2 separate regions of the Homo sapiens genome follow, and region 1 is linked to region 2. The links come from fine-mapping of genetic effects on gene expression. A gene starts in region 2. The other region holds a variant in brackets. All regions are shown on one strand. Distances are from middle to middle. Region 1 overlaps SPG7 (SPG7 matrix AAA peptidase subunit, paraplegin). Region 2 holds the start of SPG7 (SPG7 matrix AAA peptidase subunit, paraplegin).

The links. PIP is the estimated chance that this variant, and not a neighbour inherited with it, causes the effect.
Region 1: its variant is fine-mapped to the expression of SPG7 in whole blood (TOPMed, PIP above 0.99).

Annotation. Positions count from the first base shown.
Region 1 is chr16:89,536,604-89,552,160 of GRCh38, forward strand. It overlaps SPG7 (SPG7 matrix AAA peptidase subunit, paraplegin), which reads left to right. Exons shown (of 17, transcript NM_003119.4): 10 at 8,045-8,169; 11 at 10,055-10,157; 12 at 11,400-11,510; 13 at 13,891-14,006. Among named protein-coding and RNA genes, the nearest start is that of RPL13, 16 kb to the right of the region's middle. The variant C/T (reference allele first, on the strand shown) is at 7,497.
Region 2 is chr16:89,502,200-89,517,756 of GRCh38, forward strand. It overlaps SPG7 (SPG7 matrix AAA peptidase subunit, paraplegin), which reads left to right and starts at 6,204. Exons shown (of 17, transcript NM_003119.4): 1 at 6,204-6,401; 2 at 8,291-8,393; 3 at 10,749-10,838. The coding sequence starts at 6,219. LOC101927863 (a long non-coding RNA gene) reads right to left here and starts at 6,121. Exons shown (of 5, transcript NR_188547.1): 1 at 6,038-6,121; 2 at 3,760-3,948; 3 at 2,846-2,954; 4 at 2,008-2,112. RefSeq lists an enhancer at 3,649-3,698 and silencers at 5,518-5,587, 5,708-5,917, 5,988-6,547, 6,578-6,697.

The DNA of each region.
Region 1 (15,557 bases), 34 kb after region 2:
TGAGGTGGGTGAGGCGGGTGAGGGCGGGTGAGGCGGGCGAGGTGGGCGAGGCAGGCGAGGCGGGTGAGATCGGGCGAGGCGGGCGGCTGCGCTGCTCTGGCTGTGTGGCGTGGACACCAAGGTCTTCGTCCTGTGAGTCTGCGGCCTTCTTCTCCAACCAGGTGCCTCTCTTGACCAGCTACCCTCCCAGGGGACCATGAGGAAGCTCAGAGGAAAGACCCCCGCCTGCTCCTGTCTCACGGAGCCCACAGGGTCACGGAGGGCAATGGAGGGTCATTCGCTCTGCTGGGGTTGCCTTTTGCACTGAAGATAGAGACCACCTTTTTGAGTGACTTGAGCCCAAAGGCAAGCGTATATCAAACGATCTTCTCCACATAACCTCTCTGTGCCATCATAAGAATAGCTGCTTCCGCCCCCGGATTTGCTCAGGCCTGGGAATCCGCTGACTGAAGGCCTCTTGTTGAGTGCCAGCTCTAAACAAGTCCCTTTATGCAGAGCCACAGCTGTGCATGCTCAGCCCTGCCGAGGTCCCAGGCCAGGCTTTGTTGCTTCCGTTCATGGAAGCGCACAGGATAGGGCCGACGCTGTGCCGGTCGTGGGGAAATCTCACTGGGGAAGAGAAAAGCCCAAGCCTTGTTGGTTACGTCAGCCGGTCCATGGCGGTGTCCTGCGGACCCCAGAGCCCCCGGGAAGGGCGCAAGTCAAAGAGCACTGGAGGCACCGCCGGCGATGGACGTCCAGGTCCCGGCTCCTGTGCTGGAAAGCGTTGATGGGGAGCGTCGGCGCTGACCACACGCGGGAGCTGCGGAAGCCCAGCGGTTCACACAGGCCTCCCTTCAACGTAGTCATCCCCTGGTGGTGGAAGCAAGACGACGGCCCCTGACGTGCAGCCACACACAGAAAAGGCTGCTGTGAACATTTTATGCTTCGACTTTTTTTTTCTTCAGAGACAGGGTGTCGTTCTGTCGCCCAGGCTGGAGTGCAGTGCCACCATCATAGCTCACTGCAGCCTCCACCTCCTAGGCTCAAGCTTCCTAAGTAGTTGGGACTCAAGGCTTGAGTCACCATGCCAGGCTCTGTTTTTTCAGTCTGTGAAAAATAAAGTCATCAGCATGTGAGCTTGGCAGTGCTTGCCGTGAGCTCTTTCAGGTCCAGGCTCCCAGTGTCTGGGCAGTGAATGAGGTCCTGGGAAGCTGGGGTCCTGGTCCTGGTCCCAGTGTGACCCGGGACACCCCTACCTTTGTCCTTAATGTGGCAGTAAATGTATCAAGCACGCTCTGCCCTGGGAGCCGTGGACTGCCTGCCAGGTGGGTAGATGGGCGCTGGCAGAGGGAGAAGCTGAGGCCCAGCAGGAGCCGGCCGTCTGACTCACAACTCACGCCCGCCGACTGCCCCTGTACTTCCCTGGGGGTTGCGAGCACTGCCGAGCCCTGGGTGACGCTGGTGTGGCCAGGCTGGAGCGCAGAGAACCACACTTGGGGTTCAGAGTGTGTTCTCCCACTCAGAAGCATTGGCTCTGCCGGGAGCGGGATGGGGATGCAGCTTTCTTCCCCATTTTAGACCTCAGGTTGGAAGGGCGCACTCAGGTGGCAGCAGCCACTTCGGGTTGGGCGTCTCGTGCTGTCCTGGTGCGTTGAGACATCCCTCAAAGAAAGCACGAGTACCCTCCACACCCACATAGCCAGGGCATCCACTGTCACCACTCCATGTGGAAGTCCTGTTGGTAAAATCTTGACAAGAGCCATTTAGAGAGCACGGGGGGAAATTCTCCCAGGTCCAAGCAGAATGGACAGTGAGCCTGGGGGACGGATGGACAGGAGGAGGCCTGGGCTTCTGGGCTCCGCAGGCAGGGAGGGGCCGGCAGTGTGGCTTATTCCCCGGGTGGACGAGGAGCCCTGGGCTTCTGGGCTCCGCAGGCGGGGAGGGGCCGGCAGTATGGCTTATTCCCACTTGAGTCAGCTCTTGAGCACTTGCTCGTGGCCCAGAGGTGATGCTGCTGTTTCTGCCCTCTGTCCTCTCAGAGGAAGTGGGTGCTGGTTCAAGGATCTCAGGCTCTGAGCGGGAGAGCGGGGTCAGGTCTAGCTTCTGTCCGTGGCTTGCTCCCTGTGGTGCTGCCTCTGCCTGCCCTGCCGTCTTCCACATGCGTCTCCAACAGGGAATGGAAGGAGCCTCTGACCCAAAAACATCCCCCAAACTGTCGGGTCCTGCGGCAAGTTGAGGGCCTCTCAGGGGTCCTGTCTGCGGCCCTGTGGGAAGTGAGGCTGTGGCAGCCGGTCCTTTATCCTGAGTTTGGTTGCTTGTTTTTTGGACAATGTCTTAGGTCCCAGTGATGGTGGACCAGCAGGCAGCCCTGAACACTGAGGATACTGTGGGAAACCCAGGCAGGAGCTAAGGGGTGGGAGCTCAGGGCTTGGGGGTGCAGATCTCGAGGCCCAAGGGGCCATTTTCCCAGTGGGTGTCTTGACTGAGTTCTGAGTGTTTTCCAGGGCTCTGAACACAGCCCTTTTTTGGACATGTGGTTTACGCACTCTATGTGTCCCTTGTCCTTTCACCCTCTAACGGGGAACAGCAAAAGCTGCTCATTTTGATAAAGTTCAGTTTATCAATTTTTGCTTTTATAGATCTCGTTTTTACTGTGAAGTCTAAGAACTGTTTGCCCGCCGGGCATGGTGGATCACCTGAGGTCAGGAGTTCAAGACCAGCCTGGCCAATATGGAGAAACCCCATCTGTACTAAAAATACAAAATTAGCCGGGTGTGGTGGCGTGTACCTGTAATCCCAGCTACTTGGGAGGCTGAGGCAGGAGAATCGCTTGAACCCGGGAGGCGGAGGTTGCAGTGAGCCAAGATCGCACCATTGCACTCCAGCCTGGGCAAAAAAGAGCGAAACTCCTTCTCAAAAAAACAAATAAATAAAAGAACTGTTTGCCTATTCCTAGATCCTAAAGATTTTCTCCTGTGGGTTTCTTTTTTCTTTTCTTTGAGACAGAGTCTTGCTCTGTCACCCAGGCTGGAGTGCAGTGGTGCGATCATGGGTCACTGCAGCCTCAGCCTCTGGGACTCAAGCCGTCCTCCCGTCTCAGCCTCCTGAGTAGCTGGGACCACAGGTGTGTGCACCAACATGCCTGGCTAATTAAAAAAGAATTTTTTTTGTGTAGTTGGGGGTCTCACCTTGTTGCCCAGCCTGCTCTTGAACTCCTGGGCTCAAATGATCTTTTCACCTCAGCTCCTCAAAGTGTGGGGAATACAGGTGTGAGCCCCCATGCCTGGCCTCTCATGGGTATCTTATAGAAGTTTTATATTTAATCCATGATCTTATTTTAAGTTAACGTCTACATGAAGTGGGAGGTTTGGTCAGGTTCATTTTCTGCCTGTGGAAAAGTGCTCCAGCCCCACTGGTCTGAAATGCTGTCTTCTTTCCACCAAGTTGTGCTTGCACCTTTGCCGGAGCTCAGGTGCATGTGGGGGTCTGTGCTGGCTCTGTGAGTCTGTCCTTCCGCACACAACTGGTCTCTCGCTTCTGTGAGACGAGAGCAGGTGGAGTGATTCCTCCCACTTTGTTCTTTACCAGAATTGTTTCAGCTATTCCTTTGCCTTTTCCTGTAATTTTTAGAATACGCTTGTTCCTATCTACCAAAGTATCTTGCTGAGATTTTGATAGGAACACACACCTCTTAGGAGAGCTAGAGTAAAGAGCAGTGACCGGCCCAGATCTGGGCCATACGTGTGATCCCAGCATTTTGCGCGTCTGAGTTGGAAGCATTACTTTAGCCCGGGAGTTTGAAACCAGCCTGAGCAACATAGTGAGATTCTGTCTCTAAAAAAATACAAAAATTAGCTGGCAGTGGTGGTGCGCACCTGTAGTCTTAGCTGCTCAGAAGATTGAGGTGGGAGGATCACTTGAGCCTGGCAGTTCGAGGCTACAGGGAGCCGTGGTCACCCCACTGCACTCCAGCCTGGGCAACAGGGCGAGACCCCATCTCAAAAACAAAACAAAACTCAAAAAACAGTGACAACACCACACGCTGCTGAGGATGCAAAGAAACCAGATCCCTTGTACGCTGCTGATGGGGGTGTGACGTGGTGCAGCCTCACTGGGAAACAGTTTGGCAGCTTCTTAAAAAACTAAACGTGTGCTCACCATGTGACCCCGTGTCCACATGCGCTCACCACATGACCCCGCATCCACCCTCCTGGGTGCTCATCCCAGGAAAGCAAAGACTTAGGCTCACACGAAATGCCTGGGCGCCGACGCTCATTTACCTGTAATAGCTAAAAACTGGAAGTGACCCAGGTGCCATTCAGTGGCTGAGAGCTGAAACTGGTGTATCCTTATCACAGTGTTCTACGCAGAAATAGAAGAGCTGAAACTGGTGTATCCTTATCACGGCGTTCTACACAGCGACTAGAAGAGCTGAAACTGGTGTATCCTTATCACGGTGTTGTACGCAGAAATAGAAGAGCTGAAACTGGTGTATCCTTATCACGGTGTTGTACGCAGAAATAGAAGAGCTGAAACTGGTGTATCCTTATCACGGTGTTCTACGCAGAAATAGAAGAGCTGAAACTGGTGTATCCTTATCACGGTGTTCTACGCAGAAATAGAAGAGCTGAAACTGGTGTATCCTTATCACGGTGTTCTACGCAGCAATAGAAGAGCTGAAACTGGTGTATCCTTATCATGGTGTTCTATGCAGCAGTAGAAGGAAACTTTCTTCCTGCAGCAACAAGGAAATGACGCAAAGTGAGAAGAGCCAGGCTTAGTATCGTATGACTCCACTTGTACGAAATTGTCAAAATAACAAAATTCTGGGGATGGAGAACGGGTTACTGGTTGTCAGCAGTTAGGGGAGGTCTCCAGGGAGGAGGGATGCCTCTGGGGAGGGCGGTTCTGTGTCTTGAGGGGAGATGCTCGTTATGTGAACGTGCGTGTGACACAGGTGTCCATCTGTGGAGCACACACACAGGTGAGAGCACATAGGAGTGGGGGCATCTGAGCAGGGGCCTGGCGTTTCCATGTCAGTCTCCTGGCTTTGCCTTTGTTTTGCAGCTACTGAACGCACAGCTGCTGGGGGACCAGGGCCAAAGGGACTGCTCTGTGCTGTTTTTGCAATTTGTTGTGTGTCTGTTACCATCAGAATACAAAACTTAAAAAGTCACACCAGGGATCCGGTCCCAGAAAGTCCGTATCCTGAAACCGCATGTCCCTGACACATAGCTGCCCAGGGGGAGCATGTGTCCAGTCCCAGGAAGTCTGTATCCTGAAACCACATGTCCCTGACACATAGCGGCCCGGTAGGGAGCACGTGCCCTGCAGGGTGGCCACCCTGATACATAGCGGCCCGGTGGGGAGCACGTGCCCCGCAGGGTGGCCATCCTAACACATAGCGGCCCGGGGGGAGCACGTGCCCCGCAGGGTGGCCATCCTGACACATAGCCCGGTGGGGAGCACGTGCCCCGCAGGGTGGCTGGGCTCTGCTGAAGGCCGAGCTGTGCTTGAACCCGGCGCCGCCCCCTCTAGGAGCTCGCACTGCACCTCTTTGGCCTGGCTGCTGTTTTTCTTTGAGACCGGTGTTCCTATTACTTTTCCCATTTTTTTCACTGTTTATACAATCTTTCAGAATTCTGTATCCACAGCCCTGGCCTCTGCAAGGAAGGCGCTCCACGACACTGAGCAGTAAGCCTTGGCAGGCCTTCCAGACAGCTCTGGAGGGGCCAGCTTGGGTCCCAGTCCCCACCCTCCCCAGCCTCTTGTTCCTCGTGTCATAGTGAGACAAGGCACTTGTGCTTCTGCTGCCTGTTTTTGTTTCTGAGTTTATTTTAAAAGTCACCGTGATTTTAAGACACTGTCTTTGCCTTGGCGAGGTGATTCTCTTCTGTGATCTCCCTTGTAGAAATGTGACTGGGACTTAGCATCCCAGCTTATCACATTCTGACGTGTGGAACCAGGGAGAATGGTTGTGTCTTTCAAAGTTTCTTTGAAATTCGGGAGCGATTTGCTTGGGAGTGGGGTGTGTCTTGGACTGAGCTGCTGTCCAGACCTGGCGGCTACGGCTTAGTGAGGCTCAGGACAGTGGCCCTGGAGAAGCTGGTCAGGCCCCTCAGCCTCCTCAGAGCGTTCAAGGTCCTGTCCTAAGAACATGGGGTTGCTGGAGCCAGGGTCTCACTCCATTGCCCAGGCTGGAGTATAGGGGCATGATCATAGCTCACTGCAGCCTTCACCTCCTAGGCTCACATGGTCCTCCCACCTTGGCCTCCCAACGTGCTGGGATTATTAAGGGTTTCTTACATTAGTCACGGTAGATCCTGCTCTTACATTAGTCATGGTAGATCCTGTTCTTTTTTTTTTTTTTTTTTTTTTTTGAGACGGAGTCTTGCTCTGTCGCCCAGGCTGGAGTGCAGTGGCGTGATCTCGGCTCCCTGCAAGCTCCACCCTTCAGGTTCACGCCATTCTCCTGCTTCAGCCTCCGGAGTAGCTGGGACTACAGGCGCCCGCCACCACGCCCAGCTAATTTTCTGTATTTTTAGTAGAGATGGGGTTTCACTGTGTTAGCCAGGATGCTCTCCATCTGCTGACCTTGTGATCCGCCCTCCTCGGCCTCCCAAAGTGCTGGGATTACAGGCGTGAGCCACCGCGCCTGGCTATATCCTGTTCTTACATTAGTCACGGGTCCTGTTCTTACATTAGTCAAGGTAGGTCTTGTCGTATCTTTACTTTTAACACTGTTTATTGTGGACCTTTTCCTTTTTTTTTTTTTTTTTGAGAGTCTTGCTCTGTCGCCCAGGCTGGAGTACAGTGACACAATCTCGGTTCACTGTAACCTCTGCTTCCTGGTTCAAGCGATTCTCCTGCCTCAGTCTCCCGAGTAGCCAGGATTACAGGCATGCGCCACACCCAGCTAATTTTTGTATTTTAGTAGAAATGAGGTTTCACCCTTTTGGCCAGGATGGTCTAGAACTTCTGACCTCAGGTGATCCACCTGCCTCAGCCTCCCAAAGTGCTGGGATTACAGGCGTGAGCCACCGCATCTGGCCACCAGTGGATTCTTTTTTTTTTTTTTTTTTTTTCCTGACGGAGTCTTGCCCTGTAGCCCAGGCTGGAGTGCAGTGGTGTCATCTTGGCTCACTGCAACCTCCGCCTCCCAGGTTCAAGCGATTCTTCTGCTTTAACCTCCTGAGTAACTGGGATTACAGGTGCACGCCACCACACCCGGCTAATTTTTTGTATCTTTTGTGGGGTTTCACCATTTTGGCCAGTCTTCTCTTGGACTCCTGGCCTCGTGATCTGCCTGCCTCGGCCTCCCAAAGTTCTGGGACTACAGGCGTGAGCCACTGCACCTGGTGGACTGGATTCTTTTAAAGCAAACCCATAGTTTTGAATCTTATATGCTCTGAGTACGTTTCTTTAAATTCAGAGAAACACCACAGCATCATAACACCTGAACGTTCTTACGAGCATCCAGTCAGGTGTTCCCAGCAGCTTCATAAATCTCTTTT[C/T]GCAGTTGATTTATTCACATCAAGGGCCAGTCAAGGTTCACATACACCAGGGATCAGTGATCGTTTCTGGACTCACTTTTAAATTCTCCGATGACAAACGTCAAGCCTGAAACCCAGGGCCTAGGGCCAGACGTTGAAGATAAAATGTTTCCAAGTCACAGCCTAAAGCTGGGTGTTAGCTAAAATGTTACAAAGTCACAATAATGATGACAGGGCGGTGGGGGGTGGGGGGTGGCTGTTAGGACCGGCTCCCAGATGGCACCGTGAGGCAGGGAGAGGCTCCAGGATGCTGTAGGAGCTCCCGGAGGGCCTTGGACAGTTCTGCTGTTTGCACTTGTCAAAATAGGCAAATTCCTGTTCCTCCTGGTGATGCTGGCTGGGAGCGATGGGGGATCGCGGCTCCTAGTTCAGAAGGACCGGGCTGTTCCTTTCTCTCTGGGCCTTAGGGGGGTCTCTCTCCCTCCTGTGTCCTGAAGGGGAACCTGCAGGGGAAATCTGTTGTGTCAGGACCCCTACCCTCAGAGCCACTGTCTGCTCTGTCCCCTCAGGAATGGGTACCACAGACCATGTCATCGTCCTGGCGTCCACGAACCGAGCTGACATTTTGGACGGTGCTCTGATGAGGCCAGGCCGACTGGACCGGCACGTCTTCATTGATCTCCCCACGCTGCAGGTCAGAGCCAGGATCCCAGCCTCTCCCACTCCACCTGGGCCGCCCCCACTCGCTCTGAGTGGTCTGGCCTCTCCTCTAAGACACTTCTTGGTGTGAAGCCTGTCACAGCCCCACAGGTGCTGGCAGTGTCCAGCGTGGCCCCCGCATCGGCTGCACGCCCCCAGCAGACCTGCCCACCGGCTGCACTCACTGCTGTGGCCCCCACATTGGCTGCACGCCCCCTGGCAGACCTGCCCAATGGCTGCACTCACTGCTCGGGGTTTTGCAGTTCTGTTCACCTGCTATTGGTTTTCCTTTTATCCTGGGTATCAGTCTGGTTTTTATAGCAAATCCTTTGAAACAAAATCCAGGAGGAAAAATTGTGGGAAACTTTATTCTTGTGTGGCATCACTTCCTTCCATCCGTAGCGTGGGCTCTGGGGACGTGGACTGTGCAGCTGCCCTGAAATTGGGGTGGGAGTAGAAGTCCTGAGGCCTCTCGCCTGATCCCTCCTCTGTCACAGGGCTCTGGTTGGACGTTACACTTCCTGGCCAAAGGGCCTTTGTTGCTGCCCTGAGGGAGCAGGAGTTCAGCTCATGGAGCGGAGGGTTTGGAGAGAGGGCCTCCGGGTCTGCTGGTGGGTTAATGTTCCATCAGTGCAGCCTGGGGAGCAGGGCTGGGCTCAGCGGCTCTCAGCCGGTGCTCAGTCTCTGTTGGGATGGAGAGTGAAGGGCGGAGCAGAAGCCCTTCCCGCTGGGACACGGCTTCTCCAGGGGACACTGCTTCTCCAGGGGACATGGCTTCTCCAGGGGACACGGCTTCTCCAGGGGACATGGCTTCTCCAGGGGACACTGTTTCTCCAGGGGACACTGTTTCTCCAGGGGATGGCAGCTTCTCCAGGGGACACGGCTTCTCCAGGGGAGGGCAGCTTCTCCAGGGGAGGGCGGCTCCTGGCTTTTTGACTGTGTAAGAAACATTTTACATCAGGATTTAGACGCATGGAACATGTGTGGGAATTGGAAGTTTTGCAGAATAAGCATTTGCTGTGTGTGACGTGCTTCATTAGCTATTCTGCTATAATTTTTTCTTTTTTCTTTTTAATTTTTCTTTCAATTTTTAGAGAAAGGGTGTTGCGCTGTCACCCAGGCTGGAGTGCAGTGCTGCGATCACCACTCACTGCGGCCTCAACCTTCAGGGCTCAAGCTGAGGAGCTAGGACTACTATGGGCGTGCGCCGCCGTGCTGGTTAATTTTTAACAGAGTCTCGCTGTGTTGCCAAGGCTGGTGTCAAACCCCTGGCCTCAAGTGATCCCCACCCACCTCTCCTTCCAAGAGCGTTCTCTTTTTTTTTTTTTTGAGACAGTCTCACTCTATCCCCCAGGCTGGAGTGCAGCGGCGCGATCTCGGCTCACTGCAACCACCATCTCCCAGGTTCAAGTGATTGTCCCGCCTCAGCCTCCCGAGTAGCTGGGATTACAGGCACCCGCCGTCTTGCCTGGCTAATTTTTGTATTTTAGTAGGGATGGGGTTTCACCGTGTTGGCCAGACTGCCCACTTCAGCCTCCCAAAGTGCTAGGATTACAGGTGTGAGCCACCGGGCCCGGCCATCCAACAGTGTTCTGTTCGTGTTTAAAATGCTGCTTGTGGCCAGGCATGGTGGCTCACGCCTGTAACCCCAGCACTTTGGGAGGCCGAGGCAGGTGGATCACTTGAAGCCAGGAGTTCGAGACCAGCCTAGCCAACTTTGCGAAACCCCGTCTCTACTAAAAATACAAAACTCAGGCATGATGGCACACACTTGTAATCCCAGCTACTTGGGGACCCCCCCCCCCCACAGACAAACATGCCGCACCTGTGGCAGTAACTAGGCTTGAGCCCGACTGTCTTTCCTCCCCTGGTTCTGGCAGGAGAGGCGGGAGATTTTTGAGCAGCACCTGAAGAGCCTGAAGCTGACCCAGTCCAGCACCTTTTACTCCCAGCGTCTGGCAGAGCTGACACCAGGATTCAGTGGTACGTTCTCAACCCGCAGCCTGGGCAGCGTCACGTCCTGAGGGCAGGTGGTGTCACCTGCGCAAACAGCATCGAGGCCTCCTCTGTGGGGTGGGCGCTGCTCCTTCTCTGGGGGCCTCTGCTCAGTACAAGCCTGGGAGGGAGCTGATGTGTATGTGGGGCAGCAGGAGGTCCAGACGGCACCCGCACTCCGTCCTCCGCCCCGGGGTGGAAAAGCAGACGGTGGTTCCCGGTCTGTGTTGTTTCCAGAGATAGTGGAGTTATGTTGCTTCCACACAGTGACCAGTCATGCCGGCGTTTCCCGTCAGACCCAGAGTCAGACCACGCAGTCCCGGCAAAGCCGCCTCCCTCTGACCCTCACGGTCTCTGTCAAGTTGTAGAAATAGAAATCATACCTCAAGATGCTTTTCCTGCTGTGTGGTTCACATTTTAAAAGTTAATGTCAACAAACCTCCCTTTTATTATGAGATGAATTTGCCCTTTGATTATTCGTTAGGGTCTTTCACTAGAATTTTGTGGTTACTAGAGAGCCTTTAATTTCTTTGCCATCAATGCTCATGAGCTGTTAGGTGGAATCAGCCACAAGATGGGGTGTGGAACTAACTGCCCTTGGGAGGAGAGACGGGCGTCAGGGCGGATGGAGCCTGGCGGTTCTGTGTCTCGTCTGTGGAATGGCCTCAGTGGAACACGGTGCAAGTGCCTGCCGCTCTCCCCACCCCTGCTCCTGGCGCCGGCGCCTGCCGCTCTCCCCAGCTCTGCTCCTGGCGCCAGCTCCCCGTGCCTCTCTCCCAGACGCTCTCACCAGCACTCTTGGTTCTTGGTCTCTTTTCCCTCTTTGTTCTTCCTTTTATTTATTTACTTATTTATTTTGAGACAGAGTCCTACTCTGTCGCCCAGACTGGAGTGCAGTGGCGTGATCTTGGCTCCCCGCAGCCTCCGCCTCCTGGGTTCAACCGATTTTCCTGCCTCAGCCTCCTGAGTAGCTGGGATTACAGGCGCTCACCACCACGCCCGGCTAATTTTTGTATTTTTAGTAGCAATAGGGTTTCACCCTGTTGGCCAGGCTGGTCTCAAACTCCTGACCTCAGGTGATCTGCCCACCTCAGCCTCCCAAAGTGCTGGGATTACAGGGGTGAGCCACCATGCCCGGCCATCTTTGTTCTCCCTTGAGGGCCCCTTCCTCCTCTTAAGCCCTGATAGCAGAAACCCACCCACCCACACCGTGGCTGTTTGTGTTGACAGGGGCTGACATCGCCAACATCTGCAATGAGGCTGCGCTGCACGCGGCGCGGGAGGGACACACTTCCGTGCACACTCTCAACTTCGAGTACGCCGTGGAGCGCGTCCTCGCAGGTACAGGGGGCGCGCCCTGGGTGAAGGCCCTCCTTAGCAGGGCTTGAACCCCAGAAATACCCAGGCAGGTATTGAGAGGTGAGGTGGATGGAACCATCACACAGGAAGGAACACACGTTGCGTTTCAGTTCTGCGTAACTCATGTCTTTATGATACCTTGTACTTTTCCTTAGTTTAAAATATCACAGATTTACCTAAGAGTAGACGCTCGTCCAACAGAAATAAAAAATGCCTTGCCAAAGAAAGTGAAAAAATAAAAATAAAAAATGCCCCCCAAAAATAAAAATAATAAAAACTAAAAATGTCTTGCCAGCCTGGGTGTGGTGGGCTCAGCCTAGCCCCAGCCTCATGGGGGCTGAGCTCCAGCCGCTGACTGTGGGCCGGAGGGCTGCTGCCGCCCGTGGCTGTGGAGGGACAGCCGTGCTTTCAGCGCAGCAGGGGCTCTGCGGAGAGGTGTGGATCTGCAGCACCACCTCTGGTGAAACTCATGGTCCCGACCGTCAGTAGGAACGGGAGATGAGTTTTGGTGACGGGTGACCGGTGGGCTGACCGCCTCTGACTGCCGTTCCGTGGCTGCTCAGTGTGGGGTCTGCGACGTCTGTGAGGAGAGAGGACCAAACTGGGAATCGGAGCTGCTGGAGGTTTCCATAGCTATGATGGCAACACCCAGACGTGATCAGTCATCTCATGGAATGGAGTTCAGACCCGCACTGTCAGTGTGAGACAGGTTGAACGTTTGAAAAGGGAAGTGGTTCTTGCCCCAGGTGTTTGAGGAGCACGAGCCTCCTTTGCGAGCTATCCCTGCGAGAACCGAGTTCCTCACCCTCAATTCGAGTGAATTCCTAGCACGAACACGCCTCTTGCAGGTCCCCAGGGCTTCAGCTTGGGAAAGCAGTGGGTTCCTGCAGAGGAGTGGGGCAGCTGCTGTGCCAGACACTGCAAAACACACCTGGCTTCTCTCCGACAGCCCTGCGGGTCGAGAGGACTGGCGCTGCCTGTGTCTTACTGAAATTTATTTTCGTGTAACCATTTACTTTTATGTGGAAATCGAAAAGCTTTTGATAATAGTAGCAAAGCAGGAAGGACTGAGTGGGAACCACAAGCCAGTTGAAAGAAAATACATGACGTACTTGAGTGCTCAGGACCACGAGCTGATTCAAGTTGTACAGAATGGACACTTACAGATGTGTGGAAAATCTGAGACAGGAAATGAAGCCTCACCAGTAAGCTGAACAGGGGAGATTTAATGCAAACATTTGTCCCTGGCTGGGCACTGTGGCTCATGCCTGTAATCCCAGCACTTTGGGGGCTGAGGCAGGAGGGTTGCTTGAGGCCAGGAGTTTGAGACCAGCCTGGGCAATACAGCAAGACCCCATCTCTTAAAAGAAAAGAATAAAGAGTATTAGCCAGGCATGGTGGTGGAGCACACCTCTGGTCTCAGCTACTCAGGAGGCTGCAGCAGGAGGATTGCTTGAACCTGGGAGGTTGAAGCAACAGTGAGCCGTGATCGCACCACTGCCCTCCAGCCTGGGCAACAGAGTGAGACCCTGTCACTGACAGAAAAAAAGCCTTGTCCCTGAGGCAAAAAGCTTCTGAAGGGGTGAGTAGAAGCCATAAGGATCCAGAAAGTGATGGGGATGGGAGCTGCGCCTCCAGGTCTGAGGGGAGAGGGAAAGTAAGCAGGAGGCCCGTAACTCAGAGGAGGCCTCTGCCCATCCTGCCAGGGAGAAAGTCAAAAGCTGCTGTTCTGTGACCCTTGCCCCGACCCTGTGGCACCCCCCCAACCATGGGGCAGGAGGAGACACTCCTCAGAGGGTTGCACTTGTTCCTAAAAGCAGCAGGAGCTATTTCGATGATTGCAACATTTATAAAAGAAGAAATCACGACCTCCTTCAACAGCCCTTTGACCTGAAGAGTGTCGTTTTGAGTTGGGGTGTCCAGAGCCGCAGCTGCAGCTCCAAGAGGCAGATGTGCAGAGAGAGGCTTGCTTTGACCACACGGGGCAGGAGCAGGGCCCAGCCAGGGAGAGGCCGGGGTCTCAGCTCACCCCCCCGTCATTCTTTTTTGTTTGTTTTTTGAGACGGAGTCTTGCTCTGTCGCCCAGCCTGGAGTGCAGTGGCATGATCTTGCCCTACTGTAACCTCCGTCTCTCAGGTTCAAGTGATTCTCTTGCCTCAGCCTCCCAAGTAGCTGGGACTGCAGGCGCCCGCCATCACACCTAGCTAATTTTTCTATTTTTAGTAGGGACGGGGTTTCACCATATTGGTCGGGCTGGTCTCGAACTCCTGTCCTCAGGTCATCCGCCCGCCTTGGCCTCCCACAGCGCTGGGATTACAGGCGTGAGCCACCGCGCCCAACTCATACCCCGGCATTCTTTCAGGGACTGCCAAAAAGAGCAAGATCCTGTCCAAGGAAGAACAGAAAGTGGTTGCGTTTCATGAGTCGGGCCACGCCTTGGTGGGCTGGATGCTGGAGCACACGGAGGCCGTGATGAAGGTGGGTCTTGGCAGGTGCCGGCTCCACGGGCCTTGGCCAAAGGTGGGTGGGGAGTCCCGCCTGTGTCTGTAGCTGACTGGGGAGTCCCGCCTGTGTCTGTAGCTGACTGGGGAGTCCCGCCTGTGTCTGTAGGTCATGTGAGAGGAAAGCCTGCCACTGTCATGATCCATGGAGCAGGGTGGGTGGCGACTGATGGGCGGGAACTCGGACGTGGGAGGCAGGAGTGGGCTGTGTCACATCGGAGCATGGTGCTGCTACTGGGGTGACTCGTGGAAGGTTACACCATGCAATGGGGTTTCGCTGCCTTTGCCTGTCCACCCCAAATGACTCCTAACATTGGAAAGAAGTGAGTTGAGTGTACATTTAAAAAATACTATTCTAGGCTGGGCATGGTGGATCACCTGAGGTCAGGAGTTCAAGACCAGCCTGGCCAACAGGGCAAAACTGTCTCTACTTCAAACAAACAAACAAAAAACTACTCTTGTAGGCAGCTGTGAACTCGATGGACATTTATTCTTACCAAATGGTGATGTTACAGCTTCTCTAAGACGTGGCTCCACCACCGGGAGTCCGAGTGCTGCCAAGAGGAGGTCTCTACTCGGAACGCAGGTGCCGTCTTTACAGTGGAGCCCCAGGAAGCCGTGCAGGTTTGAGGCTCACCTGAGAAGGCGGCAGTGCTGTGTTCCTACCTCAGGGTTCACTGCAAACAATGCATACGCTGTAGCAGTTGCCAGCTTGGTTTGTCAGTGCTGGTCTCCGTGATTGGTTCTCAGGTGTGAGTTGTAGCAAAGTTGCGTGTTAATCAGAGAGCGTCCTGCCCATCCCAGGGTCTCAGCAGGGCTGAGGCAGCGTTTGGGGACCAGATCCGTGCTGCTCCTTGGCGATGTGCACCACAGTCATGGGACCAGAGCTAGGCCCACTGTGGGGCGAGTGGACACTCAGCTGGGGGTCCCATTTATGGGACACTAAAAAACTCAGCAGTGAACACGACGTTTTAACACGGTATGTCAAGAAATCAAAATTAATGCAGGGACTTTGGGAGGCCAAGGCGGGCAGATCACTTGAGGTCAGGAGTTCGAGACCAGCCTGGCCAACCTGGTGAAACCCCATCTCTACCAAAAATACAAAAGAATTAGCTGGGCGTGGTGGTGCGTACCTGTAACCCTAGCCACTTGAGAGGTAGAGGCACAAGAATCGCTTAAACCCGGGAGGCAGAGTCTGCAGTGAGCCAAGACTGTGCCACTGTACTCCAGCCTGGGTGACAGAGCAAGACTGTCTCTCAAAGGGAAAAAAAAAGAATTTTTACTGTATTTGATGGGCAAAAGTCAGATAGTCACAATGAAAAAGTGAGTCTCTTTCCCAAGGCTCAGTGTCCTGCCAGGAAAAGGTTGTGAATTGGCTGTTATGGTTTTGGTCATTAATGCAATCATCACTGCAGCCGTTATTTAGAGCTTCTTTTTGTTTTGAGACAGGGTCTCTCTCTCTGTTGCCCAGACCGGAGTCCAGTGGTGCGATCACAGCTCACTGCAGCCTCGACCTTCCGGGCTCACA
Region 2 (15,557 bases):
CACCAAGACACCCCAGGCTTTACTGGATCCTCTGGGAGAACCAGCCCCATGCCTCGGTCCTGCCAGGATCCTTACCTTCTGGCACTGCTGCAAAAGCCTCCCTCCTCCCTGGCCTCACATTCCCACCTCTGGCCTCTCTAGAGTCCATTCTCTCAGCAGCCAGTCATGCTTTTACCACAGACTTTATTAGTCCTCAGCAGCACTCCCCCTCGGACTCTCCAGCATTCCCTGGCCGCTCCCCACTCCCCTGCTACCTGCCCCCTCCCAACTGGCCACACCCTGGCCATCAGTTAGTCGGACTGCAAGCTTGTCCAGTCCAAGAGACTAAACGGTCCAGTCGAGCCACTCCCAGATTCCTGACCCTCAGAAACAGAGTGAGATAAGCATTTGTTGTTTTAAGTTGCCACGTTGGCGAACTCGGAATGCACTGCCCAGGGCCGTGGGGATTCCCGTCACGTGGAGAGGACATAGGCTGTCCCTTCCAGGTCCTTAAACACCTGCCCAAAGTCCCACACCCAACAATCTAAAGAAACGCTGAGGAATACATGATTATTTAGTCATGCTCAAATTCCTGTACAGGTTTCTTGCTAGTAGAAACGGACTTTCCGCCAGGCGTGTTGGCTCACGCCTGTAATCCCAGCACCCTGAGAGGCCGAGACAGGTGGATCACCTCAGGTCGGGAGTTTGAAACCACCCTGACCAACATGGAGAAACCCCGTCTCTACTAAAAATACAAAATTAGCCGGGCGTGGTGGCACATGCCTATAATCCCAGCTACTTGGGAGGCTGAGGCAGGAGAATCGCTTGAACCCCGGGAGGTGAAGGTTGTGGTGAGCCGAGATCGAGCCATTGCAGTCCAGCCTGGGCAACAAGCAAAACTCTGTCTCAAGAAAAGAAAAAAAAAAAAGGAATGAACTTTCCATCTTCTTTTCTTTTTTTTTTTTTTGAGACGGAGTTTTGCTCTTGTTGCCCAGGCTGGAGTACGATGGCGCGATCTCAGCTCACAGCAAACTCCACCTCCCGGGTTCAAGCCATTCTCCTGCCTCGGTCGGCCTCCAGAGTAGCTGGGATTACAGGCATGTGCCACCACGCCTGGCTAATTTTGTATTTTTATAGAGACGGGGTTTCTCCATGTTGGTCAGGCTGGTCTCAATCTCCAGACCTCAGGTGATCCGCCCACCCTTTTTTTTTTTTTTGAGGTGGAGTCTCACTCTGTCGCGCAGGCTGGAGTGCAGTGACGCGATGCGATCTCGGCCCACTTCAACCAACACCTCCTGGGTTCAAGCGATTCTCCTGCCTCAGCCTCCCAAGTAGCTGGGGTTACAGGCGCCTGCCACCACACCCAGCTAATTTTCGTATTTTTAGTAGAGAGGAGGTTTCACCATGTTGGCCAGGATAGTCTCCCAACTCCTGACCTCAGATGATCCACCCACCCTCGGCCTCCCAGAGTGCTGGGATTACAGGCGTGAGCCACGGTGCCCAGCATTTTTTTTTTTTTTTTTTTTTTTTTTTTTGAGACGGAGTCTCACTCTGTTGCCCAGGCTGGAGTGCAGTGGCGCGACCTCGGCTCACCACAACCGCCACCTCCCGGGTTCAAGCGATTCTCCTGCCTCAGTCTCCCTCCTGAGTAGCTGGGATTACAGGCGCCTGCCACCACACCCAGCTAATTTTCGTATTTTTAGTAGAGATGAGGTTTCACCATGTTGGCCAGGCCGGTCTCCAACTCCTGACCTCAGGTAATCCAGATCCAACCACCTCGGCCTCCGAAAGTGCTGGGATTACAGGCGTGAGCCACCACGCCCAGCCCCATCTTTTAAAGAAGAATAAAATCTGGTTCTACATGGATGAGTAAAGCCCAGTTAACAAGTGATATAAGAAGAAACTGTTTCCTAAGAAAGAGCTTCAGGAAGAAAATGTACTAAAATTTACAGAGATGAACTCGTTTATTTTCAAGCATTCCACAAGGTAACATGTTTTATGTAAGACATCCTCATATTCAACACATACCTTATTGTTCTGCCTGACTTTGCTTCAGCAGGAGGAGTCGCCGTGGGGGCGGCTTTGGCCATCATTATGGGTGCTGCAGTCCAAGAGCTCTGGAGGCCAGGCTAACTGCAAAAGCAAATGTACTTAAAAAAATTTTTAAGTTTAGTTGCTGCCAAATTTGGAAAGAAGCAAATATGTAATTATTTGTTCAGATATTAATAAGGAAGCCTAGATTTTTTTTTTTTTTTTTTTGAGACAGTCTTGGCCTGGCGCGATGGCTCATGCCTGTCATCCCAGCTACTCGAGAGGCTAAGGCAGGAGAATCGCTTGAAGCTGGGAGGCAGAGGCTGCAGTGAGCTGAGATCGCACCACTGTACTTCAGCCTGGGCAACAGAGTGAGACCTTGTCTCATAAAAAAAAAGACAGGGTCTCACTCATCACTGAGGCTGGAGTGCAGTGGCAAGATCTTAACTCACTGCAGCCTCCACCTCCCAGGTTCAAGCGATTCTCATGCCTCAGCCTCTCGAGTAGCTGGAACTACAGGCATGTTGCCACCGTGCCTGGCTAATTTTTTTGTATTTTTAGTAGAAAGAGAGTTTCGCCGTGTTGGCTAGGCTGGTCTTGAACTCCTGACCTCAAGTGATCCACCTGCCTTGCCCTCCCAAAGTGCTGGGATTACAGGCGTGGGACATAGCACCCAGCCAGAAGCCTAGATCTTTTTTTTTTTTTTTCAGATGGAGTCTCTGCCTCCCAGATTCAATCGATTCTCCTGCCTCAGCCTCCCAAGTAGCTGGGATTACAGGCACCTGCCACCGTGCCCGGCTAATTTTTTCTATTTTTAGTAGAGACTGGGTTTTACCATGTTAGCCAGGATGGTCTCATCTCCTGATGATCTCGTGATCCACCGGTCTCGGCCTCTCAAAGTGCTGGGATTACAGGCATGAGCCACCGCCCCAGCCAGCCTAGATCTTAAAATCAAAAAAAGTCCCAAAGATCAACTTCTGTCTCTGGAATGTTAAACGTTACTGTTTGATAGATGAGGCAACTGAAGTTTGTAGAGCACCTTGCCTGAAGCTTCAGCCCACAGCAGGAATAAGGGACAGAGCCTAGAATGCTTCTGCATCAACAGGGAACAAAGGCATGGGGTCTCCTCTCTGTCCACCTTCCCTTCCCACAGCCCAGGCTGAAAGGGCTGCCCTAGGCGCTCCTGAGGCCTCCTCTCTTATGGGGCTAGAGCTGAGGGAACCTGGGGTTGGTAGCCATCCAGAGACCTAAGGCGTGCCCTGACCCAAACCAGGAGTCACCAAGAGACTGCCTCTAGAGAATAGGCGGGGAAGGGAAGTCACACCAAGTCCAAGCGCAGAGTTCAGAGGGCTGAGGAGGGGTGACGCGGAAGTACAAATGAGTAAGCAGCAGTTAGGAAGTGTGCCAAGTCCTGACGTGCAGAGTTCAGAGGGCTGAGGAGGGGTGACACGGAAGCACAAATGAGCAAGCAGCAGTTAGGCAGTGCAGGAAGAACACACAGGCGGAGAAGGGAAAGCGAACGTCCTGCTCTGCTGCAGGCTATGAGGGCAAAGGCAGACCCGGGAGCCCACTGTCCTACAGATCCTTCTTCTTGAATCCAAATCATGCAGCAAAATAAAAACAAAACCCCCAAACCATGGGGCACCCGAATCCTTAAACAAAACCCCTACTGCTTGAGGCTACGTGAGCCTCTGCTGCTGCCGCCACTACAGCAGGGGCTGAAGCTGAGAGCTGAGAGTCACGGTTCACCTGTAGGGCCTGGGATGCAGCCAGCCTTCAAAGCACGGTTGTTAGAGATGAGTTTGAATAAATGCATAAATACTCTGTTCCCATATCCTCATTTCCCATGACGTCCCAGTAATAACTCTGGATGCCAAGGCTTCCTGGCTCGTCAGTTGCCCTCACACACATTTATTGCATTTTATCTTCATAACCACCCTGTGGGAAACCCAAGGCTGATATTAGCCTTGCTTTGCAGATAATTATCATCCCCATTTTACCGCTGAGAAGATTGAGGCTTGAGGAAGCTAATAACTTGCTTAAGGTCATAGGCCAGAGGAGACAGAACCCAGTGTTCTTTCCCCAGAGGAGGCCTCTTGCCAACACCCCACACTGCTTCTGATGAATTGCCAGGAAACAATTTTAACTTATCTCAAACAATATTAATAGGACTACACTTAAACTCCTCCCAAACACATCCAAATGTGTGCCCTCACCCTCTCTCCAGCCTTGTCCCGTGACCAACCCAACCAAACTTCCGAAAGGGTTTTTTGTGTTCTAGGAAGTGACCGAGCCCCACAACCCTTTATGCCTGTGCGTTCAGAGGATTTGTGACCTTTTTTTTTTTTTTTGAGATGGAGTCTCGCTCTGTCGCCCAGGCTGGAGTGCAGTGGCGGGATCTCGGCTCACTGCAAGCTCCGCCTCCCGGGTTCACGCCATTCTCCTGCCTCAGCCTCCCGAGTAGCTGGGACTACAGGCGCCCGCCACAGCGCCCGGCTAATTTTTCGTATTTTTAGTAGAGACGGGGTTTCGCCGTGTTAGCCAGGATGGTCTCGATCTCCTGACCTCGTGGTCCGCCCGCCTTGGCCTCCCAAAGTGCTGGGATGAAGGGCAGGGAGAGGGAGGGGGAGGGCACCGCGCCCGGCCCACCTGGTGTCTTTCAATCAGGGAAAGAAAAAATAGTGGAGGAGGAAACGGCAAGGTTGGATTCACTGCGAAGGCTGACTGTACAATAAGAAGCAAAAGGAAAAGCGGTTCAGTTGTGAAAATCAGTGTCAGCCCTGGGTGTAGGGGAAGGTCCTCTCCACAAACCAACAGAACACCTCCCCAGCCCCGAGCACCTCTGCCGAGGCACCCGGCCCACTGGAGGGCTGAGGGCGGATAACCACGATAACTGAAAACACTTTCCTGAGCGTCTCGGGGCTGAGGAAGAGGGAGGATTACACGCAGCCCACTGGCTTTGCAACCTCGTCTGTAGTGGTGGAGTGAGTGCAGGTCCAGAAACAAACCAGACCGGCCTTGAAATTCTGCCCTAACTTCAGAGCTGTAATCCTAGGCAGGTTACTTTTAATACTTCTGAATCTTTCTTTACATGTAAAATAGAGGTATTGTATTCGCTGCACAGGGTTGTGAATATTACATGGGTGTTCGACACGGAGCTAGGCACTCGGTGATGTTGGCTGTCGTCACTGGCATTCACTGTTACGAATTTGCGGAGTACAGAAAAGCATAAAAATAAATAGGTCACCCTCATCCTACCTCTGTGACAGACCATCTAGTCTTTGCTTTTCCTACTCAACAAGCTTTCCAGCTCTTGGCGTCAGCTCTAGACCTAAGGCGGACGGAGGAAGGGGTCGGGGTGGCGGAGGACCCCGCGCGCCTGGGAGCCCACGAGGGACCCTGCCCGGGCCCGGAGGGCGGACCCTGAAGAGAACAGAGCCTCTTCCTAAGCTTCCAGACGGCGCCTCCCCGCTTCCTACGATGGGCTCGCGCAGCGGCCGGGGCAGGACCGAGGCTCGAAGCGCCTCCGAGGTGAGCCAGTCCGAAGGCACAGGACGGAGCGCTCCGAAGTCAGAGGTGTGCGGGACGAGCTCTGCAGACGCCTGCCAGGCCGCGCCGCACTGCGCGCTCCCTCCCTCACGACCCTCCTCCTCCGGGGCTGCCCTCCCTGCGGCGGCTGCAACTTCAGTCCTCGTCCTCGGGCGGCTCAAGACGCAGGAAAACCGCCCCCTTCCTGCGCTCCTCACACCCGAAGGGGCCCTCCCGACCCGAGGCCTCCGGCGCCGCCCTCCTGAGCGCGGGCCTCTACTCGCAGGCGGGATTCCGGCCCGCACCATCCGCCCTCGCCTGTGACCGAACCCTGCGGGTGACGCAGGCTGCCCGGGCGTGAGGCCCCTCGGCGCGGGCGGAGCACGACCACGCAGCCACGACCCGGCCGGTTATTCACCCGCCAGGCCCTGGGAATACAAGGCCGGCTTCAAAAAAACCAGGGCACCCGCGACCTCCTCGCAGACGCGCGCCCCCATACCCGGGCCTCAGGCAGCCACGAGGTAGACGGGCTCAGGCTCGGGGGTGCGGCAAGCGGCACCCGGGCGCGGCGGGGCGCAGCTGTGGGGACCGCGCAGGCGCCACGTCAGACCCCGCCCACCCCGCCGCGCAGGCGCCGTGTAGCGCCCCGCGGATCACGCAGGCGCGGCTTTCAGGCCAACATGGCCGTGCTGCTGCTGCTGCTCCGTGCCCTCCGCCGGGGTCCAGGCCCGGGTCCTCGGCCGCTGTGGGGCCCAGGCCCGGCCTGGAGTCCAGGGTTCCCCGCCAGGCCCGGGAGGGGGCGGCCGTACATGGCCAGCAGGCCTCCGGGGGACCTCGCCGAGGCTGGAGGCCGAGCTCTGCAGGTAAATCCCCGCGGAGTCCGGGCCCCACCTCCCGCCCGGCTCTGCTCTGTAAGGCCCAGCCCGGCGGGGCGGGTCGGAGGCCGCCTGGCCCCTGCGGCGGGGGAGCCTGCGCCTGTGGGCCCGCGGATCCCCCAGCTGTGGACCTCGGCGCGGAGCGACTGTTGGGGCCCTGGATCGTGGGCGCTGGGCGGGCCGGGAAGAGGCAGGGCTGGGATCCGCGCAGTCCTCGGCGTGGACTTTCCCAACCCGTCTGTTGTGTGTGGATGTTCTCCGCCCGTCTTCCTCGCCTTTTAAAGTGGAATCCAGTAACGGTTTCCGGCGTAGCACTAATTTACAGTCCACGCCTGTGGATCGATTCCGTCACCAGGAATTCCAGCGCCTTCCAGTTAGGGTGGTTATTGCCGAGTAGGGGGCCCAGAACGTTTCTGTGTCCGCAAAATACCCTGTAGCTGCATTTTGCTGTTGTCATGTAGCTCGGCACGTTATTGATACAGTCATTGAGCACCCCCTGTAGTGCGGCCTTGTTTCAGGTTCTGCTAAGGATAGGATAGCATCTCCTCCCGAAAACCAGACCTTGTGTCCTTCAGCTTTTGGGCTGATGTTTTTTTCTCCTAGCCCTCGCCTAGGAGCTTAGCCCACACCTTTTAGGTTGTTGTTTTTTCGGTTATTTTTGAGACAGAGATCTCGCTCTGTCGCCCAGGCTGGAGTGCAATGGTCTTGGCTCACTGCAACCTCCGCCTCCCGGGTTCAAGCGATTCTCCTGCCTCAGCCTCCTGAGTAGCTGGGATTACGGGTGCGCGCCACCACACCCAGCTAATTTTTGTATTTTTAGTAGAGACGGGGTTTCACCATGTTGGCCAGGATGGTCTCCATCTCTTGACCTTGTGATCCGCCTGCCTCGGCCTCCCAAAGTGCTGGGATTACAGGGCGTGAGCCACCGCGCCCGGCCATAAAACATATTTAAATGGGAAAATGTTTATCTTGAAAGGAGAACTCTGAAAGTATATACTTGTTAACTGGTTTGGTACCTGGAAATGTTCTACAAGGAGCCACTCTCTGGTGACAGCAGGAGCCCCGTGTCTGGGCAGCCACTGTGGCCTTTGGAGAGCTGGGCTGCTCCCTTTCTCCTGCAGAAGCTTCAGGCCATGGGATAGCAGCCAATGTACTTCTGTGTTTTGTTTTCTTCTTTTTTTTTTTTTTTTTTTTTTGTGACAATCTCGCTGTGTCGCCCAGGCTGGAGTGCAGTGGCCTGATCATGGCTCCCTGAAGCCTCTGCCTCCTGGGCCCAAGCAATCCTCCCACCTCAGCCTCCCAAAGTGCTGGGATTACAGACATGAGCCACCGTGCCTGGCCACTATCGTGATTTTTTGTTTGTTTATTTGTTTGTTTTTTGAGATGGAGTTTCCCTTTGTTGCCCAGCCTGGAGTGCAGTGGTGCTATCTCGGCTTACTGCAACCTCTGCCTCCCGGGTTCAAGCGATTCTCCTGCCTCAGCTTCCTGAGTAGCTGAGATTACAGGTGTGCACCACCACGCCCGGCTAATTTTTGTATTTTTAGTAGAGATGAGGTTTCACCATGTTGGCCAGGCTGGTCTCAAACTCCTGACTTCATGTGATCCACCCGCCTCAGCCTCCCAAAGTGTTGGGATTACAGCCGTGAGCCACCACGCCTGGCCAATTACTGTGTTTTAACCTGTTTACTTGCTTTTGACATTTTGATGTTACCTAAAGCTTTGACCTATTGCTCAGACTATTACTTTATATTTCAGGGCAATGTAGATATTACAAATAATTATATATTTGAACTTTTAAAAACGATTTTTAGTCTGCATTGCTTTGGTACTCTCTAATGTTGGTGTGACCTCCAGTATTGTTTTTTTTTTTTTTTCAGAGCTTACAATTGAGACTGCTAACCCCTACCTTTGAAGGGATCAACGGATTGTTGTTGAAACAACATTTAGTTCAGAATCCAGTCAGACTCTGGCAACTTTTAGGTATGTATCTGTTTAAAGAAGCAGCTGAGCATGACTGCACACTTACCGCCTCAGCTACTTGGGAGGCTGATCTTTTTTTATTTTAGAGACGGGATCTCGCCCTGTTGCACGGGCTGGAGTGCAGTACAATGGTGTGATCAGAGCTCACTACAGCCTAGAACTCCTGGGCTCAAGGGATCCTCCCCACTTTGCTTCCGGAGTAGCTAGGACTACAGGCGTGTACCGTCACACTCGGCTAATTGTTTTTTGTAGAGACAAGGTCTCACTTTGTTGTCCAGGCCCAAAGGGGCCTCTTTACTCCCTTATCCCCCAGTTGCAGAGCCTTGACCTCTTAGGCTGGAGTGATCCTCCCACCTCAGCCTTCCATAGAGCCAGGACTCCAGGCACACACCAAAGCGCCTAGCTAATTTTTGGGGGGTATTTTTTGTGGAGATGGGGTTTTGCCACGTTTCCCAGGCTGGTCTTAAACTCCTGGACTCAAGCGATCAGCCTGCCTTGGCCTCCCAAAGTGTTGAGATCACAGGCATGAGCCACCGCATCTGGCCAAGTTGTCCTTTTTTAAAAAAAATTCTGCTGTATTCCAGTAATTGGGCTGCTTGAAAAAGGTTTTTCGTGTTATCTAGTCAGCTGCAAGAATGTTTAGTAAGGATTTACAAAGTGGCTACAGATGTTTTATATCCACACAATCACTAAAAATACCCTGCAAATAATTTGCTCTTCAATAAATCATTTAATGAAACCTTGTGACATTCTTTGGTCTCTCTTGGCTTTAGGTTAAAGAACCTGAAGGATTGACACCTCTCACTTTTATTTCACGCTCCCCTTTATGGAGTTGGAACAGGGAAAAAGTAAAATATTTCTACTCCTAACTAACATTAAACAGCTTTGTGCCAACACATGGGTAGGGAGAGTGCCGTGCCCACTGGCCGTGCATCAGCAACTGGCTCATCTGCTGTCAGTGTTTAACGTCAGCTCACGGGTGCCTGTGGCTGTGAAACAGGAAGCACATGCTTCAGCCTCCTTAAGCCTGAGGTGACATGCAAGTGGCAACCGGGGCCGTTTCACTGGTGAACCCGTTCATGTCTTTGTGAAGAAAGTTACATTTCAGGTCATGGTTGTGAAACTCTTTCCCTATTTTTATTATTTTTTATTATTATTTGAGATAGGGTCTTGCCCTGTTGCCCAGGTGCAATCTCTACTCACTGCAGCTTCAACCTCCTGGGCCCAGGTTCTCCTCCCACTCAGCGTCCTGAGTAGCTGGGAAGTCAGGCATGTGTCACCACGTACAGCTACATTTTTGTGTTGTTGTTGTTGTTGTTGTTTATTATTATTTTTTTGAGACGGAGTCTTGCTCTGTCTCCCAGGCTGGAGTGCAGTGGCGCGATCTCCGCTCACTGCAAGCTCTGCCTCCAGGATTCCCGCCATTCTCCTGCCTCAGCCTCCCAAGTAGCTGGGATTACAGGTGCCCGCCACTATGCCCGGCTAATTTTTTGTATTTTTAGTAGAGACGGGGTTTCACCATGTTAGCCAGGATGGTCTCGATCTCCTGACCTCGTGATCCACCCGACTCGGCCTCCCAAAGTGCTGGGATTACAGGCGTGCGCCACTGCACCTGGCCTCCCCCATTTGTAAACGCTGATTTGTTCAGATTTTGAGACAGCTCTGTGTGAGGAGTGTCGTGCCGGCCCCTCTTGGTGGTGGCTGGGCTGCTGCTGTTGCCACTTGTCTGGAAACCATTTGTGAGTCGGAGTCTTGCTCTGTAAACCAGGCTGGAGTGCAGTGGTGTGATCTCAGCTCACTGCAACCTCCGCCTCCCGGGTTCAAGCAATTCTGCCTCAGCCTCCCAAGTAGCTGGGATTACAAGCGCCTGCCAACACGTCCGGCTAATTTTTGTATTTTTAGTGGAGACAGTGTTTCACCATCTCAGCCAGTCTGGTCTTGAACTCCTGACCTCGTGAACCACCTGCCTCGGTCTCCCAAAGTGCTGGGATTACAGGCATGAGCCACCACGCCTGGCGTGTTTAAGTTCTTTTAAAGCAACTTCATATATTAAAGGGATTCGTGATATTTTCCCAAATTTGTGTTCATAACTATTTTTTATTCCCTCACATTAGCAATTTAAGTAGCAAAGATATTTAACGTAAGTTAAAATAGTTTATTATTTTGTAATTAGGAAATACTGGACTAAGTGATATAGGATATGCTTTATTTCATATTTATAAATCTTATGGATATAAGTAGGTTTTTCAGATGGTTTTTGTTTTGCTTTGGTTATTTAGGAGTACACTGTTGTCCTGTATGCCTCCCCTGTGGTTGCAAAACTTAATTGTTAAATCCTTTCTCTATTTCTCATAGGTGGTACTTTCTATTTTAACACCTCAAGGTTGAAGCAGAAGAATAAGGAGAAGGATAAGTCGAAGGGGAAGGCGCCTGAAGAGGACGAAGGTATATTCATCTGATGTTCTTCAGTCAGTAGCTGCCTCTGGATGTCTTTACATTTCTGTTTTCCTTTTAGCAAGGTGAAACCAGTCTGGAAAATGGGGAGATGGGCCGGGTGCAGTGGCTCACACTTGTAATCGAAACGCTTTGGGAGGCCCAGGTGGAAGGATCACTTGAGGCCTATACCACATAGCGAGACCCTGTCTCACTGCAAATTAAAAGGCTGGGCGTGGTGGCTCACACCTGTAATCCCAGCACTTTGGGAGGCTGAGGCAGGCGGATCACCTGCACCCTGGCCAACATGGTGAAACCCCGTCTTTACTAAAAATAGAAAATTAGCCGGGCGTGATGGCACACGCCTGTAATCCCAGCTACTCGGGAGGCTGAGGCAGGAGAATTGCTTGAACCTGGGAGGTGGAGGTTGCTGTGAGTGGAGATCATGCCATTGCACTCCAGCCTGAGCAACAAGAGCAAAACTCCATCTCAAAAAAAAAAAAATTTAAATTTAAATTTAAAAAGACCCTATCTATACAGAAAGAAAAGAAGAAAATAATTGGCCAGGCGTGGTGGTGTGCACCTGTAGTCATAGCTCAGGAGTTGGAGGAGCTTGAGCCCAGGAGTTGGAGGCTCAGCTTCAGACTCACAGCCCCAGGGGGCAGAAGGGTTGAACTCAGCTTCAGGAATGCTTTGCTTTTGGATCCTTGAGGCCTCTCGCTGGAAATCAGCGTTGTTAAGATGGACGCCCTGCTCAGCAGAGCTCATCTTTCTAGAAAGGCACCTGGCCTTGGAAGGCGAGTGAGGAACTGTCATAAGGACTTTTTCTTCCCATGTTGCTTTTCAGGAAAGCTTTCAGGATGTGGAAATGATGGTTCAGCTATTGGATGAGGGGATTATTATTGTGAATTCGAGTTTAGCAGGAGTTTGTTTCAGGAGTGACGTCCTTCTTGATTGATTTTGTGTGAGACGCTGCATTTGCCAAGGCCAGGGACAGCTTTACTCTGTGAGAGAGGAGCTCTGACTCTCCCTACTGAGCTCTCGAGGGGAGGTCATAACTGCGGGAAGGGACACCAGTGTTTCGCAGGTGGATTCAGTTTAGGCGTTTCTGGCTTTAGGCTCATCTTCAGCTTACTGTTGGTTTTACGGTAAGTGTCAATGCTTACAGCCACTCAGAACTATCTTCTAAAAGACTTCTGAATCTTCATACAAAATTGTTCTGAATTGATTTCAGGGCTCTTTCCCTGTATACTTCAACATTTCAATAAAGTGTGTCCTTTGACTTTTTTTTTTTTTTTTTTTTTTTTTTTTTTTTGCCAGAATCTCACTCTGTTGCCCCGGCTGGAGTGCAGTGGTGCGATCTCAGCTCAATGCAACCTCCCCCTCCCGGGTTCAAGCAATTCTCCTGCCTCAGCCTCCGAAGTAGCTGGGATTACAGGTGCTCACCACCACACCCTGCTAATTTTTTGTTTTTTGTTCGTTTGTTTGTTTTTGAGACGGAGTCTCGCTCTGTCGCCCAGGCTGGAGTGCAGTGGCACAATCTCGGCTCACTGCAAGCTCCACTTCCTGGGTTCATGCCATTCTCCTGCCTCAGCCTCCCTAGTAGCTGGGACTACAGGCACCCGCCACCGCACCCGGCTAATTTTTTTGTTTTATTAGAGACTGGGTTTCACCATGTTAGCCAGGATGGTCTCGATCTCCTGACCTTGTGATCTGCTCACCTTGGCCTCCCAAAGTTCTAGGATTACAGGCGTGAGCCACCGCGTCAGGCCCTCTTTTTGTATAGTAGAGATGAGGTTTTGTCTTGTTGGCCAGGCTGGTCTCAAACTCCTGACCTCAGGTGATTCACCCACCTTGGCCTCCCAAAGTGCTGAGATTACAGGTGTGAACCACCGTGCCTGGCCTTGACCTTTTTTTTTTTTTTTTTTTGAGACGGAGTCTCGCTCTGTCGCCTGGGCTGGAGTGCAGTGGTGTGATCTCAGCTCACTGCAAGCTCCGTCTCCCAGGTTCACGCCATTCTCCTGCCTTAGCCTCCCGAGTAGCTGGGACTACAGGTGCCCGCCACCATACCCGGCTCATTTTTTGTATTTTTAGTAGAGACTCGGTTTCACCGTGTTAGCCAGGATGGTCTCAATCTCCTGACCTCGTGATCTGCGTGCCTCAGCCTCCCAAAGTGCTGGGATTACAGGAGTGGGCCACCGCACCCAGCCCTGGACCTTTTTTTTTTTTAACTTTTATTTTGTATTTATTTATTTATTTTTGAAACGGAGTCTCGCTCTGTTGCCCAGACTGGAGTCCAGTGGTGCGATGTCGGCTCAGTGCAACCCCTGCCTCCTGAGTTCAAGCGATTCTCCTGCCTCAGCCTCCTGAGTAGCTGGGATTACAGGCATGCACCACCATGCCCAGCTAATTTTTGTATTTTCAGTAGATACAGGGTTTTGCCATGTTGGCCAGACTGGTCTTGAACTCCTGACCTCGTGATCTCCCCACTTCGGCCTCCCAAAGTGCTGGGATTACAGGTGTGAGCCACCACGCCCGGCTGACCTTTTTATAAAAAAAAATTTGCTGGGTAGGTGCGGTGGCTCACACCTGTAATCTGAGCACTTTGGGAGGCCAAGGTGGGATGATCACTTGAGCCCAGGAGTTTAAGACCCTCATTTCTATTATTATTATTACTATTATTATTATTATTTTTTTTTTTGAGATGGGGTCTCGCTCTGTCGCCAGGCTAGAGTGCAATGGCACGATCTCGGCTCACTGCAACCTCTGCTTCCTGGGTTCAGGCGATTCTCCTGCCTCAGCCTCTCGAGTAGCTGGGACTACAGGCGTGCGCCACCACGCCCAGCTAATTTTTTGTATTTTTAGCAGAGACAGGGTTTCACCATGTTGGCAAGGATGGTCTCAAACTCCCGATGTCAGGCGATCTGCCCATCTTGGCCTTCCAAAGTGCTGGGATTACAGGTGTGAGCCACCGTGCCCAGCCTGGAGTTTCACTCTTGTTTCCCAGGCTAGAGTGCAATGGCGTAATTTCAGATCACTGGAACCTCTGCCTCCTGGGTTCCAGTGATTCTCCTGCCTCAACCTCACGAATAGCTGGGATCACAGGCATGCAACACCAAGCCCAGCTAATTTTTGTAGTTTTGGTAGAGACCTGGTTTGGCCACGTTGGTCAGGCTAGTCTCAAACTTCTCACCTCAGGTGATCCACTCGCCTTGGTCTCCGAAAGTGCTGGGATTACAGGTGTGAGCCACCACGCCCGGCCGTTCGTTTTTTTAATAAAAGAAGAAAGTTAGATCACTTGGGGCCAGGAGTTCGAGACCAGCCTGGCTAACATGGTGAAACCCCTTGTCTACTAAAAATACCAAAAAAAAAAAAAATTAGCCAGGTGTGGTGTACGTGCTTGTAATCCCAGCTACTCCGGAGTCTGAGGCGTGAGCATCGTTTGAACCTGGTAGGCAGAGGTTGCAGGGAGCTGAGATTGTGCCATTGCACTTCAGCCTGGATAATAGAGTGAGACCTTTCTGTCTCAAACATAAAAAATTAAGAAAGAAAAGGCCGGGCGTGGTGGCTCATGCCTGTCATCCCAGCACTTTGGGAGGCCAAGGCGAGCAGATCACAAGGTCAGGAGATCGAGACCATTTTAGCTAACACGGTGAAACCCTGTCTCTACTAAAAATACAAAAAAAAAAAAAAATTAGGCGTGGTGGTGGGCACCTGTAACCCCAGCTAGTCGGGAGGCTGAGGCAGGAGAATGGCGTGAACCCAAGAGGCGAAGCTTGCAGTGAGCCGAGATCGCGCCACTGCACTCCAGCCTGGGCGACACAGCAAGACTCTGTCTCAAAAAAAAAAATTAAGAAAGAAAAAAGCGACGGCGAGACTCTTGTCTCAAAAAAAAAGAAAAAAGAAAAAAGTCGTAAGAGAAAATATATTTCCTATTTATGCAGTGGAAGCGGATCACCATAAAGAGCTTCATCCTCATGGCCTTCACCTTGAGTGGGCTGAGGAGGAGGACGAGGGGCTGGTCTTGTTGTCTTGGGTAGCAGGGGTGGAAGAAAATCCACGTGTCCGTGATCATACATAGCTCACTCCTGTGTTGCTGAAGGGTCACCTGTCATAGAAGAGGGAAGAATTGTGTGGCCTGTGCGGATTCTGCATTCAGCCTTGTGTGTTGTGTTACGGTTAACCAGGGACGTGTGCCCCACTAATAACTCTGATTCCTGGAAGGAATGGCATGGCAGCCTCCGTTGTCATGGTTCCTGGAGGGAATGGCATGGCAGCCTCCGTTGTCATGGTTCCTGGAAGGAATGGCATGGCAGCCTCCGTTGTCATGGTTCCTGGAAGGAATGGCATGGCAGCCTCCGTTGCCATGGCAAGGCAAAGCCATGGCAGCTTCCTGGTTATCACTCCTGGCATGTGGTAGGTGCTTGTCCAGTGAAATCCTAGTCGTTGCTGCATTGGCAGGTGCCCTGGCGTGAGGAAGGGCAGGCAGTCACCATGCCCTTTGCTCTCCTGGGCCCTGCATCTGCTTATGGATGAGGCTGCGTGTAGCTGACATGCGTGTCTCTCCTGCATCTGAGTAATTGTCGTCGTCTTTTTTTTTTTTTTTTTTTTGAGATGGAGCTTCGCTCTTGTTGCCGAAGTTGGAGTGCAATGCCACGATCTCGGCTCATTGCAAACTCCACCTCGTGGGTTCAAGCAGTTCTCCTGCCTCAGCCTCCCGAGTAACTGGGA